2 separate regions of the Homo sapiens genome follow, and region 1 is linked to region 2. A link means that fine-mapping ties the variant in region 2 to the expression of a gene that starts in the linked region. Tissue or cell type: whole blood. Region 2 holds a variant in brackets; the other region holds the start of a gene. All regions are shown on one strand. Distances are from middle to middle.

What was found. PIP is the estimated chance that this variant, and not a neighbour inherited with it, causes the effect.
Region 1: it holds the start of HSBP1, and the variant in region 2 is fine-mapped to the expression of HSBP1 in whole blood (INTERVAL, PIP above 0.99).

The regions. Positions count from the first base shown.
Region 1 is chr16:83,804,518-83,812,701 of GRCh38, forward strand. HSBP1 (heat shock factor binding protein 1) reads left to right here and starts at 3,461. Exons shown (of 4, transcript NM_001537.4): 1 at 3,461-3,604; 2 at 4,163-4,229; 3 at 4,788-4,908; 4 at 6,904-8,184. The coding sequence starts at 3,560. The coding sequence ends at 4,906. RefSeq lists an enhancer at 3,255-3,756 and silencers at 3,414-3,590, 3,608-3,897.
Region 2 is chr16:83,729,193-83,737,376 of GRCh38, forward strand. All of the region lies in intron 10 of CDH13 (cadherin 13), which reads left to right. The region is part of intron 1 of CEDORA (CDH13 antisense oligodendrocyte and neuron associated lncRNA); the gene reads right to left. Among named protein-coding and RNA genes, the nearest start is that of CEDORA, 40 kb to the right of the region's middle. The variant G/A (reference allele first, on the strand shown) is at 3,975.

The DNA of each region.
Region 1 (8,184 bases), 75 kb after region 2:
CACCGCCCATCAGGTGAAGGTTGCTCAGCAGCAGCATGAGGCAACCTGGGAGGAAAGCAAACCAGGGGAGCAGCTGCTGGGCCCCAGGGCTGGGCCTACAGAGCTGACGCAGGTGCAACTAGGCAAAGAACATTCCAGTTCCTCCAAGGCCCCGCTAGGATCATTCCATCGCTGCTCACACAAGGCAAACGCACAAAGCACCTCATTGCATGTGGTCACATGGACAGACCAACACCTTCCATAGTGTATTTTATTATTACTGTTTTTTGAGACAGAGTCACAATCTGTTGCCCAGGATGGAGTGCAGGGGATAGATCTCGGCTCACTGCAACCTCTGCCTCCCCAGGTCAAGCGATTCTCCTGGCTCAGCCTCCTGAATAGTTGGGATTACAGGTGCACGCCACCTAGCCCAGCTAATTTTTGTATTTTTAGTAGAGATGGGGTTTCGCCACACTGGCGAGGCTGGTCTTGAACTCCTGGTCTCAAGTGATCTGCCTGCCTCAGCCTCCCAAAGTGCTGGGATTACAGGCATGAGCCACCATGCCCAGCCACCTATCATAGTACAGATCCAAGAAAGGAGGCATGTCAAAAGAATGGCCCAGAGAACCAAAAAGCAATTATAAAAGTACCATAATAAGCGCACGTAAAACAAAACTGTCTTGAATGGAAAAAGGGAGTTACAACATGCAATTAATCTAGGAAGAGCTTTAAAAAAAAAATGCCAAGAGGAGGTAAGACAACTATGACACTTAAATAAAGGTTAAAAATGAGAGTTGTTCAAAACCGAAGTTTAAAGGTTAATTACTGGTGCCTTACACGTAATACATTAGTTTTGTTAATGGGACAATATTCAGTTAGGTTCGGTGTGTCAGCCCCACAAGGTGAGTATGTCAGCCATGAGTATAAATTAGTGAAGCTTCCGTGAAAAGCAGCCCTTTAACAGACCTTGGTCTCCACACAGAGAAAGCATACTGCCTGTCTGTTTAAGTGCAAAAAATAAAGGAACAAATAATGCCTCCACTAAAAGAGTATCAAGTTTGTTTGTTGTTCATGTAAAGCAAATTTCCAATTGGAATTTGAAAAAAAAAAACCACAAGTGTCTTACCAGAAAAGGAAAGAAAAACTCCAGATTCTCGTGCTAATTCATGTTCCTGAGTTGCCCACAGCCATAAGACAGGTTTGCTCAGAGATCCAGGGTGCAGGCACCCAGCTTTCTTTGCTGAGTGTGGGAGTCCCAGGGATTGGGGTCTAAAGTCAGAAGCCTGAGGGCTTTCTTCACCTTGGCTATTCACTAGTTTTTAAGGAGTTCTGAAGTTTTATGAAAAGTCTTTTACGATTAGCTGGGCATGGTGGTGCTCACCTGTAATCCCAGCTACTCAGGAGGCTGAGGCAGGAGAATCGCTTGAACCGGGGAGGCGGAGGTTGCAGTGAGTCGACATGGTGCCACTGCACTCCAGCCTAGGCAACACAGCAAGACTCCATCTCAAAAAAAAAAAAAAAAAAAAAAAAGTCTTTTAAGAAAACTGAGATACTGGCATCTAGTAGGTAGAAGTCAGAGATGCTGCCCAACGTCCTACAATATACAGGGTGCCCCCTCCACCACCAACAATAAAGAACGACTTGACTCAAATGCCAGTATTGCAGCTCTTGAGAAACTCTGCTCTAAGCTCAAAAAACTCAGAGAATTCTAGAATGGTGAGAAAAAAGGAGAAGATGCAGAGTCAGGAAGTCCTGCGTCTCTTACTTCCTTAATTTGATGACCTTGTTCCAGTTTCTTAACGCCTCTGCATCTGTTTTCTCAAAAATGTAAAATTATGATAATTATATCACAGGGTCTTCTGAGGATTAACTTAAAACACTGAGATATTTTTATTTCAAGTAGTCGGGTAAAGCACTAGCCAAATACCAGTTGACAACAGCCAATTACAAAAAAGTTGTGTATACTTACACAGAAAGGAAGATCTCTCTATAGGAAAGGATGAGGTGTGAAGGGTGAGGGGCAAAGGTGTGAGTGAGGGGGAAGGGGTGGTAAAGGGAGTTGAAGTCTCATGCCTCAAGGCCAACTGGATTCCGGGTTTGTTAGAGACACTGGTGGGTCTGGCAGAGGCGTTTGAACAAGAGCAACTCCATCTCGAATAGGAGCTGGGTAAACTGAGGCTGAGAACTACTGGGCTGCATTCCCAGACAGTTAAAGGATTCTAAGTCACAGGATGGGATAGGAGGTCAGCACAAGGTACAGGTCATAAAGACCTTGCTGATAAAACAGCTTGCGGTAAAGAAGCCGGCCAAAACCCACCAAAACCAAGATGGCAATAAGAGTGAACCCTGCTTGTCTTCATTGCTACACTCCCATTACCGCTATGACAGTTTACAAATGCCATGGCAACGTCAAGAAGTTACGCTATATAGTCTAAAAAGGGGAGGCATGAATCACCCACCCCTGGTTTAGCATATAATCAAGAAATAACTATAAAAATGAGCAACCAGCAGCCCTCAGGGCTCTGTCTATGGAGTAACCATTCTTTTATTCCTTCATTTTCTTAAACTTGCTTTCACTTTACAGACTCGCCCTGAATTCTTTCTTGCATGAGATCCAAGAACCCCCTCTCTTGGGGTCTGGATCAGGACCCTTTCCCGTAACAGCTCTAACACCTTACAGCCTCTCCCTAGCTAAAGTCAAACTGGAGCTGACCCCTCACATAGCACAGTCCTTAAATGAGATGTGTGAAAGTTTCCAGAACATGCCAGGCCCGCAGTCAAGGACTCTCCTATCCCCTTGCCATGAGACCCAATCCTAAAGACCACCTGTGGGGTTGGAACTTGAGGTTCCAAATCAGCAGTGCCCACCTCCTTCAACACCCAAACCCACAGTCTAACCCTGATGCCGGAAGCCTTCCCCACTCAACAGCAGGCATTGCGTGGAGTGAAAGAAGCCAGGCATGATGGACAGCTTCCTGTCTGAATCCCCTCATATGAACCTGACGGGCACAATGAACCTACTGGGCTAAACTCCAGACGCTGGCCACCTTCATAGGGTGGAGATGACAGAACAGGACAGGAGCCATGGGGCTCCCGGGGCGGGTAGGGGTGGGTCATGTTCCTTGGCTTGGGGGCAGTTACAAGGGTACAGTGGGGCTTGTTGAAGGGCAAAAGTTCTGTAAGTTCGTCCCGACAGGCCAAAGAAACCCCAGAGCCGTCTTTCGACTGACTACAGCCTGGAAGAGAGGCCAAGACCACTCCCTGCCTCTATTGCTCCATTTCTGAGTTGGTCTCACTTTCCACCCCACTGACGGCGCGCTGCGTGAGGGGCGGGGCATAGAGGGAGGGGAGGGGCTATGCGAAAGAAGGCGGGGAGAGTGGGGTGGGGCCGCTCCTTGGAACGGAAGCGCGCGGCCTCGAGGCCCTTCCGGTGCGGGAGAAACTACTACTCCCATAATGCCCCGCGGTCCCGCGAGCTGCCAGTCTCGTCGCGAGAAGCAGCGGCCCGGGGCGACTGAGCGGACAAACGGAAGTGTAGGTTACGGTCTGAGACATCACCGCCAAGCTGGGCATCGGGGAGATGGCCGAGACTGACCCCAAGACCGTGCAGGACCTCACCTCGGTGGTAAGGGACGGCTGTGAGGGCCGGAGGCCGCGGCCTTCCCGGGCGGCGCCGGGCCAAGCCCTGCTGGACAGAGGCGCGCCCACCGCGGCCGCGCGTGGCGTCTGCCGAGGCCCCGTTTCTGGAAGCGTCTCTGGCCGAGGCTCCCGGCCACCTTGACCCCCGGGGCGCTCGGTGCGGGCCAGTCTCCCCGCGGGCGCCCCCAAGCCCGACCCCTTCCAGTAGCCCCATTCATCTGTCGCGAACGCCCTCCGGGTCCCTCCCGCCTACCTCTGACACCCTCCCCGCCCTTCAACTCCTCACACACCCCCGGGTGCCCCAGCCCGGCAGAAACAACCTAAAGACCCTGAGCTTTGAGTCGCAGCGGCCTCCCCAGCCCAGCAGTCTAATTGGACAGGTTGGAAAACGGAAGCCCAGAGAAGGAAGATCTTGCTGAAGGCCGCACAGCTGTCCAGAGGCAGAAATGGGGCTGGAACCCCGGGACCAGGGCTTGCGTCCTGATCCCAGGAAGTTGTCTCAGGATCGATGTGGACCGTGTTTGTTTGTTTCGGTTTTTCTTAGGTGCAGACACTCCTGCAGCAGATGCAAGATAAATTTCAGACCATGTCTGACCAGATCATTGGGAGAAATATCCTTTTTATCTGCAGTCGGCCTCCTGTGGGCCTTTGGAGCCTATTTGCCGGGCAGTGGTGGGGATAAATGAGTAGTTTTCAGGCTAGCTTCAGCCATTCACTTGTAGAATTTGAGCTTGGATTGTACTGTGTTTCTGAGAAGGACTGCGCCGAGAGCTAGGGGCAAAGCTGAGTTAGACTCCTGGCTCAAGGAGCATACGTCTACCAATCCTAATAGCTGGTGTGGTGGACCATGCACTGTGAACTAAGCGCTTTTGTGTGTGTCTTTTGATGCTCAGCATGACCTTATGAGTGGGTTGTAGTGTTATCATCTTTAGCAAATGAATAAATTGAGGTTTAGGGGTTCCATCACTAGTAAGGGTCAGGGCTGGAATCCGATGCGGGGTAGCCATGCCCCACAGTCCTGTACTCTTACCCACCAGCGTGTAACAGTGTCGAAAGAAAATTGGAAGACCAGTTTCCCTAAAGTCGTTGTGTTTAAGGCTGTAGTCTGCAGGGACGGGAGGAAAAAGGCTCAATGAGATGTTGGCACGCGTTGTCTTTAACTTCAGCACTTGATGATATGAGTAGTCGCATTGATGATCTGGAAAAGAATATCGCGGACCTCATGACACAGGCTGGGGTGGAAGAACTGGAAAGTGAAAACAAGATACCTGCCACGCAAAAGAGTTGAAGGTGAGGAAGGGGGCAATTTTTTTTTTCTTTTCTTTTCTTTTTTTTTTTTTTTTTTTTTTTGACACGGAGTTTTGCTCTTGTTGCCCAGGCTGGAGTGCAATGGCACGATCTCGGCTCCCTGCAACCTTTGCCCTCCTGGGTTCAAACGATTGTCCTGCCTCAGCCTCCCGAGTAGCTGGGATTACAGGCTTGTGCCACCACACCCAGCCAATTTTGTATTTTTAGTAGAGACGGGGTTTCTCCATGTTGGTCATGCTGGTCTCGAATTCTGACCTTGAGTGATTTGCCCGCCTCAGCCTCTCAAAGTGCTGGGATTACAGGTGTGAGCCGCCGTGCCCGGTCTTTTTTTTTATTTTGTCTTAAAAGAATAGAGAGAACCTGTAAGTATAATTTGTATGTAGTCAGACATTCTGTAGATCAGTTCCCAGCCATGATCCCAGCAAGCATCACTGTATTGTTTACCTGCTGTGGACTTGATGTTTTGAAATTTTTCATGCCAAACTCATTCTTTACACCGAATTTATTTTCCCAGTTTTTATTAATTAGACTTCTGTCACTATTAGTGAAGACCACTGGCTAACATTAGATAACCACTGAGTTTTTATCATTCCAGCTAATAATTAAGGTGTCTTTTTGTTGGCCTATAAAGCCTGTCACTGGAAGATTTTCCATTGCTTTTTTTTTTTTTTATGGAAATAACTGATAAGTCACCCACATTACCACCTTCTTAAATGGCTTAAATTCTGGAGACTTTCTTGGTAACTTGACATAGGTGAACTAGATTGTGGCCACATTAAGCTTTTACCCTGGAGTTCATTTAAATTTCCTCTGAATAGTTTCAGATGTCAGAGGAAAGCCTAGTAATTCAAAGTACCTACACAGCAAGATAGGTAAATGTACAGAATCACTCAGCAGAGTGCATGGTGATCCTTTTCCTCTGTATGTGTGAAAAATAAGTTTTAGACTCACTTTTCTCTTGTTTCATTTATAACATTTTAATTCTCTATAAAAATGAATGTTGCTGAGGGAGGCGGAGGTTGCAGTCGAGGTCACGCCACTGCACTCCAGCCTGGGCGACAGAGTGAGACTCTGTCTCAAAAAAAAAAAAAAAAAAAAAAAGGTACTGGTGCGTGGTGACTCATGCCTGTAATCCCAGCACTTTGGGAGGCAAAGGCAGGCAGAGGGCAGATCAGTTGATGTGAGGAGCTCGAGACCAACCTGGCCAACATGGTGAAACCCTGTCTGTACAAAAATTAGCTGGGTGTGGTGGTGCACGCCTGTAATCCCAGCTACTTGGCAGACTGAGACAGGAGGCAGAGTTTGCAGTGAGTCGTGATGATGCCACTGCACTCCAGCCTGGGAGACAGAGCAAGACTCTGTCTCAAAAAAATAAAATAAAATGGTTCCTGAGTATTTTTAGATTCGTAGAGTACTAAGCAGAATGTACAGTAAAACATGCCTAATTTCCTATTTTCTGGGCTTGCTGTGGACCACATTTTAAGTCACTGTGAAATACAGATTTGGGATGTTGAAGACAGACTCTAAAATTTGCTTTTATCTTCACAGTAGGTGGGGTTCATTCACTGTGTGAGTAAATCACATAACTGCTTTCTATGGGTTATGTCATCGTTATTCTTATCCAGAGATAATTTGGAAAAATGTCCTACCAGTCTCAGATGCTTCTGTGGGTCTCTTTTTATATTATGTGGCAATCAAAACTGCCATCAACTGACTGATTATCTTACCACAAGAATTTCAGGATGGTAGACTGGCTAGTGATGGGGGTCATTCAAAGAAAAGAGTGGGAGTAGGAAACTGACTCTGAAACTTTTAAAGATATTTCCAGTTAAATCTATTGCTAAAATATTGCCAGAAGAAAATAAGTTTAACTCAGTAGGAGAGTGGAAAGGGATTTGTAGTTGATAGGTCTATATGTCATTTTTACTTGTGCTCATATAATGAAAAACATGTTGATGATTTTTCCTTCTTCAACAGGTTGCTAATAATTTATACTGGAATCTGGCATTTTTCCAAGCCAAGAGAAGATCGAATGGCTTTTTGCAGCTAACTACTATGTGTAGACAGGTTTTATATTATAAAGTATGCATTCTTATCACCTAGTATATAGTTAGTTTGTAGAGTGATTTCCCCCCAGTTTCTTGAACATGGTATCTTCACATCTTGGACCTTGGTCAGTTGTGCTATTCATTATTAAACACTAAAACTTTGGCGGTTCTTGCATAACATTGTCAGATTTTTTAGTGTATTTCTGTGAAGTCATTTTTTTTCTTGTCATTCCTTTTGTAGTAGTTGCTGTTTGGATAAAAGTTGATGTGTGATTTTTTATTAAACAAATAGTAAACCCTTCAATTATAGTTAGTCTTGGTGAAGTAAGATGTTTGTAGACTTTAGAGTTCTTTAATTCTTGGCACAACGTGACTGTTGAGCTAACACCAAATAGTGTGTTGGCAATACTTTTCAAATGGCTGAAAACACCTAAAAATTGTTCATTCAGAAATATCTGTCACTGCTCTGTTGCCAAAACTCAGAATAGAACTTAGACGTATGTCTGAGTCCCTGAGATCACATGCTAAAGTCGATGAAAAGTAACCACTGCCACTGTCTTGTGTCAGAACTTTTACAGTACAGAAAATAACAGAATAGCCTTCTGTAATGAGGCGTTTGTTAGAGTTTTGCATGAGATTCTAATACTTCAGTAGGACCCTACCTACGTGGTTCATCTACAATGGTTACCATAAAAAATCTGGCAGGATTTTAAAACTCAATCAGTCTTTCCTTTGAGCTAGTGACTTGAAAAGAAAGAGAGAAGGAAAAGAGACCATATTAAGTCCATGCCAGTTGCTTGGCTAGAATATGATCAACGACTTGTAGTAGACTCAAGTTTTTAAAAAACACTATTTTACTTAAACTGTTTCTTATCTAAATTCTTGCAGAGTGTCAATGTTATCATTGATTATAGAAGACAGGGATAATACCTTTATCTCTGGCCACTCAAAAATGCAGTGCCAGGAGTGCTAAACCTAGAGGCCAATACTGATGACCTGGAAGGTGATCCATATGATTGTCACCACAAAGTGCTTTTACACAAAAACTTGAAAATTTGAAAAACATGATTTTTTTAAGTTTCTCATCTCACCAGTCTTGGTGTTTATATTGCAAATCTATCAAAGTAAGAAATAATTTGTGCTGTATACAAATTACATGGGGAACATAAAGGAGTGAGATCCTTCTGTGATAAAATGAATTCACCACTCT
Region 2 (8,184 bases):
GTTCACAAGTATAAAATGGATATATTATTTATGTGCATATACATCATATACTGTTACATATCATAGATAAGACATGCATATTATACATATGTGTATGTATATATAGTAAATATACCATCTATAGTAATAAGGTTTCACAAAGAAGAGAAAATGGAAATGTAGAGATATAAAGGAAATCATCTTTGTATTACTAGTCTTTTTATTGCCAAAAAAATTTTATTTGCAAAACAAATATAGGCTCATGGTAAAAATTTTAGCAACTGAGATAGGCAAAACTAAGAAAGATGTAAATCCCACTAGCCAGATACCACTACTCCTAAGACCCAGGTCAGACAGCGAGGCATCACTGTTAAGAGCATGGGCGCTATGGTTGGACAACTCTATCACTTACTAGCTGTGTGTCCTGGACCCAGCTACTTAGTCCCTCACCACCTCTGTTTCTTCATCTATATAATGGGTCAGTAATCCCACCCACATGAAGTTATTGTTAGACTTAAATAAGCTGACCCATGTAAAGTGCTTGGAAATTCCCTGGCACAAAGCAAGTGCTCAATAAATATTATCTGTGACTCTATTATTATCATCATCATGATCATAATTATTACCGCAACTGCCACTAGCATTCCCTTCCAAGGTATTTTCTCAGCCAGCAGCAGCAAATCTGTTTGGGATTGTATGTCAAGCCCTGTGAAAAAGAAGGGTTTGGCACACAGGGCTTCATACAAAGAGGGGTTTTGAAGCTGACCTGGCCATTGCCAAGTCATTACCGTGCTTGTGAGAAGGGGGCAGCGAGCCTGCCACATGTTTGCATGTGGACCCTCACGGTGCTATACACATACCTACCTACTATAAAGATTTACTTCGTATGTGTTGTCATCTTGTCATGCTGTGTTCATCATGGCTTTTAATGTCTACGTAGCATTCCATTATCACTTTTGATCAACAGTTCCCTGATTGATTTTTTATTTTTCTATAGTAAACATTGAAGGAGAAAATATAATTGTCGCTAAATATTTCAGCCAAATAAGTCTGAGCTATGCATTATTCTAAGGCCCTCTCTCAGATCTTCACAATGCAAATCTGAGTATTAAAGGCTCTGAGAATTCTTGCGCAAAGGGGGACCTCATTTGATGTTATTAACCTGGCATTCCCCAGTTTTGGAATGTGCTCCCTATAGCTATTTCTTTAAGCTAAATAATTAGAGGAAGAATTTCTGGGTCAAAGAATATGTACAGTTCCAAGAGATTTTCATTTGTTTCCCTCTAGAATGTTGTTTTAGGAACTGACAAACTTGGAGATACCTCCTTCTGGGCTAAACTGTGACTTTTTAAAATCACAATTCGATGAAAAGTTCAACACACTAAAATATACGGTGGTATTCTTTTAAAAAATTCATACAATTGAACTGGGTACAAAGGATCACCTGGGTTTTTTGTTTGTTTGTTTTTGTTTTGTTTTCGTTTTTTGGTTTGTGGTTTTTTTGAGCTTTTAGATTCAGGGGGTCCATGGGCAGGTTTATTACCTGGGTCTATTGCGTGTTGCTGAAGTTTGGGGTATGAGTGATCCCATCACCCAGACAGTGTGCATAGTACCCGATAGTTTTCAACCCTTACACCCCTTCCATGCTCCCCCTTCTAGTAGTCCCCAATGTCTATTGCTCCCATCTTTGTGTCTGTGTGTACTCAATGTTTAGCTCCCACTTAGAACTGAGAACATGCAGTATTTGGTTTTCTGTCCCTGTGCTAATTCGCTTAGGTTAATGGCCTCCAGCTGCATCCATGTTGCTGCAAAGAACACAATTTCATCCTTTTTCACAGCTGCATAGTATTCCATGGTATACACGCACTGCATTTTCTTTATCCATTCCACCATTGATGAGCACCTGGATTGGTTCCTTGTGCTTGCCATTGTGCATTGTGCTGTGATAAACATACAAGTGCATGTGTCTTTTTGGCAAAACAATTTATCTTCTTTTGGATAAACACCCAGTAGTAGGATTGCTGAGTCAAATGGTAGTTCTGTTCTAAGTTCTTTGAGAAATCTCCAAACTGCTTTGGACAGGGGCTGAACTGATTTACATTCGCACCAACAGTGTATAAGAGTTCCCTTTTCTCTGTAACCTGGGCAGCATCTGTCATTTTTTGACTTTTTAATAATAGCTATTCTGACTGGTGTGAGATGGTATCTCATTGTGGTTTTGATTTGCATTTCTCTGAGGATTAGTGACGTGGAGCATTTCTTCATATGTTTGTTGACCGCACGTATGTGTTCTTTTGCAAAGTGTCTGTTCATGTCTTTGACCATTTTGTAATGGGGTAGTTGTTTGCTTGTTGAGTTGTTAAAGTTACTTATAGATTCTGGATATTAGACCTTTGTTGGAAGCATAATTTGTGAATATTTCTTTCCATTCTATAGGTTGTCTGTTTATTCTGTTGATAGTTTCTTTGCCAATTTTTGTTTTTGGTGCAATTGCTTTTGGGGACTTTGTCATAAATTCTTTGCCAAGGTCAATGTGCAGAATGCTATTTCCTAGGTTTTTTCCAGCTGGATTCTTTTCTCGTCTTCTGGCAAGTCAGTTTAGAAGAGGTTGATTTATTCAGAAAGTATCCATTTTCTTTTTCTAGACTTCAGACAGGAAAATGTAAAATGAGCAAAATTCTCGTGTATAAACTAGCTCAAAGGTTTGTGGAAGATTTAAATGCTGCATGACAGGTAGCAGGTAGTCGATAAATGCCAGTTGTGAATATTGCTTTTCAGATTAAATAACAAGGCTGAAAGTAAATGTTTTGGACAGGCTAGCTATTCTTCATACATCCAACCTAAAGGTAATCATCCTGGTTTATTTATTTATTCAAAAAATATTGAAAAATTCACACTGTGAGCCGGGTCCTAACTAGCCCTGAGGATAGCAGTGAACAAGACAGTGTGGAGTTTCCATTCTAGTGGGAAGACCGGCAATGAACAAGCCAATGAATGTCTGATCACACAACCGGTGTGATTACAGCTTACAGCTCTTTCCCATGGGAGAGTCAACAGCTTAATGGGATGGAGAGTAACTGGAGAAGGCCACCTTAGATGGGCTGGTTAGGAGGGAGATGATGTGTGATCTGAAGAGTGATAATGAACCAGCCAAGGGGAGAGGTGAGGGGGAGAAACCAACAGCTAATGCAAAGGCTGGGACGATGGGAGAGCCTGGCTAGCTTTGGACTGGGGAACAGGGTGAGTTGATGGTGGGAGGTGAGCAGTGATCAGTCCCCAAAGCCACAAAGGTTTTGAAGCCTGAAAGGGACATGACGTACATTTTTTAAATCTCACTCTCCTGTTCTGTGAGCAACAGAATAGAGGACCCGGAAACTGTAGTAGGGTTCTGTTTCTACACTAGTGCTAATGTAGAACCTCCTACATCCAGAAAGATGATAGCAGAGCTGAGCCACATTCTTCCTGGCAACTGATGTTCCCACACGTAGAAACAGCTGGCATCCTCATACAGAGGGAGGCTTGCAGGCCCAGGATACATCTCATCCCCCTTGCTAATCTCAGTACTTGACACCCCTGACCTCACCAGGGGCACCAAACCCAACTGCTTCCTGCAGGGATTCAGCTGCACTTGTCATCACAGAGCCTTGAAATCCCTGGGGATATCAACTCCTTGGAATTCCAGGCTGCTCTTCCACTTGCTTCTGACACATTGACTTTTCTGCCCATTCACTCACCCATCTTTAACCAAGGCCTGTATGGCCAGACATGAGGCCACTCACTGCCTACATGAAGAGGGAAAGACAAAGTGTATCCCTGGGAGCTCGCTACCTTGTGTGAAAATTACAACATCAGATAGTAAATGCCTTGGTGAAGATACGCATCCCAAGGGCAGGAAGCTCCCCACCTTGATCACTGCAAACTCCCCAGTCCCTAACAGAATACTGGGAAGATAGAAGGTGGTCAAAGCGTATGTATGGAATGAACACTGGAAATCA[G/A]TACACAGGGCTGGGAATGTGTGATTCTGAGCACTCAGTGATGGAAATAACCCTCCAGCTCCTTCACAGAACAGCCAGCAGCATCACCTGTTTTGGTGATGGTGCCTCCGGATGATGATCCGTGAGCGCACACTGGACTCGTGCTCCTGGGTGAGCTCTCTCCTTGTGAAACCCAGATGCTTCTGTCTCCCAGGGACCCTGCAGCCCTCCCGGTAACCTGGCCTCCATCACGAATGCAGTCTCTATAGACGGTTGTCTATTAGGATGCCACTGGAGAGGGAGGTCCCGTCATCACCTAAGCTAAGCACAGCTGCCTCTAAGTACCTCCTTGCTTGGCAGCCGGCCAGACCACATTCACTGAGCTTCAAGTCATAATGCGAGGCTCAGCCATCTATCTCACTGTGGTCCCCGCTGCAGCTGGCTTCATTTATTGACTTCTTGAAAGTGGCAATATCCATGCTCAGCTTGGTCTGAGCTGGACTCAGAGACCCAGGTGCCAGAGCAAAGGCCATGGTGTGTCGGTTAATCACCCAATAAAAATAAACTCTGAGAACAAATACAGAGGGGTGATTAACTTTCCCATTCTGGTCTTCTGACATCCCAGTTTGCTCTCCCAGTGAGCGTGTTTCTTTGAGATAAACCACCCTGGGAAACTGATCACCTGTCCAGACACCACCATGCCTTGGCGTAAGTGGACAAAAGTGGAACGTGACCTGCAAGCAGCGCAGCCTGAGACTTAGGCAGAGAGCCCCCTGCCCCAGGTTCCATGCTGCTGAGGGCCTTATCAGAAACTCTGAAGCAGAGCACCAGACTATTTTATTCTGCTTTTTGCTCTTGTAATAAAGTGTTATTAGTGTTTAGTCACCAGATTAAACCCCAAAGCCTTACCTCCCCTCCTGTGACCATCCATGTACTCCAAATCATGAACCAAAAAACAGGGACCACCAACAGCCCTTACCAAAAGAAGACTGGAAGCACAAAAAAGCAACTTACCATGAATCAATTTAAAGTGAAGACCAAAGTGTGACTCAAAACTGAAAAAATATATGTATTTGGTTAAGATGTAATTGTTACCGAAGCACCAGGGGTTTGGTCTGGGTCCTGCTGTTCACTGCACAGAAAGCCAATCACTGAGACAAGACAAAAGCCAGGGAAGAAGGCTTTAATCGGGTGCTGCTGCAGCCAAGGAAATGGGAGGTCAGTCTCAAATCCATCTCTGAAATGAGGGGTTGATGCACCAGAGAGGAAATGTAACCGTGTTTGGGAAAACATGGATGAAATTGGAAATCATCATTCTCAGTAAACTATCGCAAGGACAAAAAACCAAACACCGCATGTTCTCACTCATAGATGGGAATTGAACAATGAGAACACATGGACACAGGAAGGGGAACATCACACTCTGGGGACTGTTGTGGGGTGGGGGAAGGGGGGAGGGATAGCATTAGGAGATATACCTAATGCTAAATGACGAGTTAATGGGTGCAGCACACCAGCATGGCACATGTATACATATGTAACTAACCTGCACATTGTGCACATGTACCTTAAAACTTAAAGTATAATAATAATAATAATAATAATAATAAAAACAGGGATTAAAGCGGGGCAAGGAAGAGAAGTTGGTCAGTAGGAAGCAGGTGGTCCTTTAGGCAATCCTGATGGATGAGGGGTCTGGCTCCTCATTATCCAGAGGCAGTGGTCTGGTAAGTTTCAGCTCCTTGATTTTATCTGGGAGACCTGATGGTTGGCTTCTTGAGAAAGGAACTCAGATAAGACAATTGTAACTTTCTCAAGTTTTAAAGTCTGGAAGGAACAATTTCTGTGGTTATTCAAAAAAAAAAAAACATAAGCGTCAGTTCTGTGGGACAATTTGATCACTTTATTTTGGAGAAAAAAATGATGAATAGAAGTTTGTTTATAAGTTTAACCCCAATAATAGGCTAGTCTCACAGTGAACACAGATGAACCAAGAATTGCTTTGCTTTTGACATAATTTTTACAACATCCCACGGCAGTACATGCCAAACTTCACCTTGTGCTCAGCTTATGCCCTGCATTTATAAAGAGATTGTCTTTCCTAACCATTCGAGGGCTTTGTCCATTTCCCAAAGGACCTCTCCCCAGTCCTTTGCCAGTCAAATCACTCTTTCGAAGCAGTTGTAAATCCACTGTCCTTTCTCTTCTTCAATCATTGATTCCCTTCTCTCCATTGCGTTTTCACTTGTCATGGATTTACTTATGATTCCTTTTTTTCTTCTTGTATTGCTTTACTTGTAATTAGCAAATAATAATTGTATATATTTATGAGGCATAATGTGATGGTTTGGTCTTTGTATACATAGAAACTTTGATCAACATCTCCCCCTTCTTCAGCCCTCTCCCTGCTGCCATGAATTTGACTCTTTTAGATTCCACAGATACATGAAATAATAAAGTATGTGTCTTTCTGGGCTTGGCTTATTTCACTTAGCGTAATTCTTATACTCTGAGTATCCTCGTAGAACCCTACATCTTTTGTGAGATTGACAGTCATACTTTGTGCTGGACTGGTGCATCTTTGGGATGGTTTTGTCACTGGGCGATAACTCATGAGGTCTGCTGACCAGGTAGATACCAGGAGTAAGCAGGATATTTGGCTGCAAGAGAGAATTATAGGCCTGGTCGGGAGTTCATTCAGGATGTTGTAAATGGAATACTGGGGTGATGAGCAGTCCTTGTGGGTCTTGTTCATATTTGTATATATTCAGGCCTAGGAATGCAGGGAAAAAAGGGATAAAACACACTGAATGAAAAGAGTGTGAACAAATGGATGAAGAGCCTCACACCAAGTAAAGCTTACGTTGCTACCAACTGGTACCAAACTCCAAGTCGTCCTGTTCTTTTCCAAGCGCCATTTCTGCTGCTTAGAAAAAGCCACCCAATCTGGATACATGGATGTAGCAAATTTAACCTTAGACCTAGATTACCTATAGGATCAGACTTGATCAGTCATTAATAATGATAATGAAAATTAATCATGAAAGCTATCTTGTGGTTGCACCTTAAAGCATCTGTGTAATGCTTTTACCCATACTAAGAGTGTTCAATCCCTGTTTTCACCTAGGATTGATAAGTGTATTTCTGGATTTCAGAAATCGGATAGCTTCTGAAGTCTCAGCCTGTTAATATGGTAACTAAATATGTTAAGGTCCTAGTCTCTCAATGTTTAATTACTGTTTAATTTTTTATTTCCTAATTTACTCAATGTGTATGATATTGTTAAATTTGTGGCTTTATACCCTGAATCTCTTTGTCTGTATTTCTCTGTATTGCTTGGCAGTCAATTTGGTCAAAAGCAACAACGAAATGACCCTTACGAAGTGTCAAATGTCCCTTTATATGAGATATAAATGTCTTTGCAAAGACACTTATAAAGTTGTGAAGACGTTGTTTCCTTACTCTAATAGCTGCTGTATTCACGTAGGTTTCAAAAATGGGGTGGGGGAGGGCAGTGGCAGTGAGCGCCTAGCGGAAACTATGTCAATCACCCCTGGAAATAAATCTGCAAAATGGACTAGCAAGCCCTGACTAGGAAGAGCCCGGCCACAGCAAAATCTTATTGCAGGCACAAAAAGGTCCTATTGCAGCAGTTGGGAGACCTTTGGTAAATTCTAACAAAGAATTAATGGCCTCGAACAAGACGCCCGGTATGACCTTTGCCAGAAGAAACTAGGAGCAGACTTGCTTGCCTGGAACAGGTGGTGAGGAGGTTTTCAGAGAAGATGTGTGCAGTCCCTGGCAAGTAGCTGGTGCCCAGGAAATGTCAGTTCCATTGTTTGCCAGGGAAGGCTCGGTGCACGTGGGGCTCACACACAAAGGAAGAGGTTAGAGAGTCCGCAGAAAAGGGTGGGAGCTCAAAACAGTGGTTCTTAGGCGTTTGTCTGCAGGCACGCTGGTAATTCATGCTGACCATGCCCACAATCAGTGGCACCTAGCTGTGGCCCCACCCCTTTCCTGCCCACTATTGAAAGTGACTACATGGCAAAGAGCGCCTATTTCCTAGACTAAATCATTCTCAGACTTAAGTTATTAGTGAGCGCTGTTAGACTCAAGTTCCTTGATATCTACATCACAACTGAGTAGTTTATCTCAGTGGTAAGTCTCGAAGTTTGACTTCGAAGTTACTAAGAGCCTTCCAATAAAAGAACAGTTTAAGCCAATATTGTTT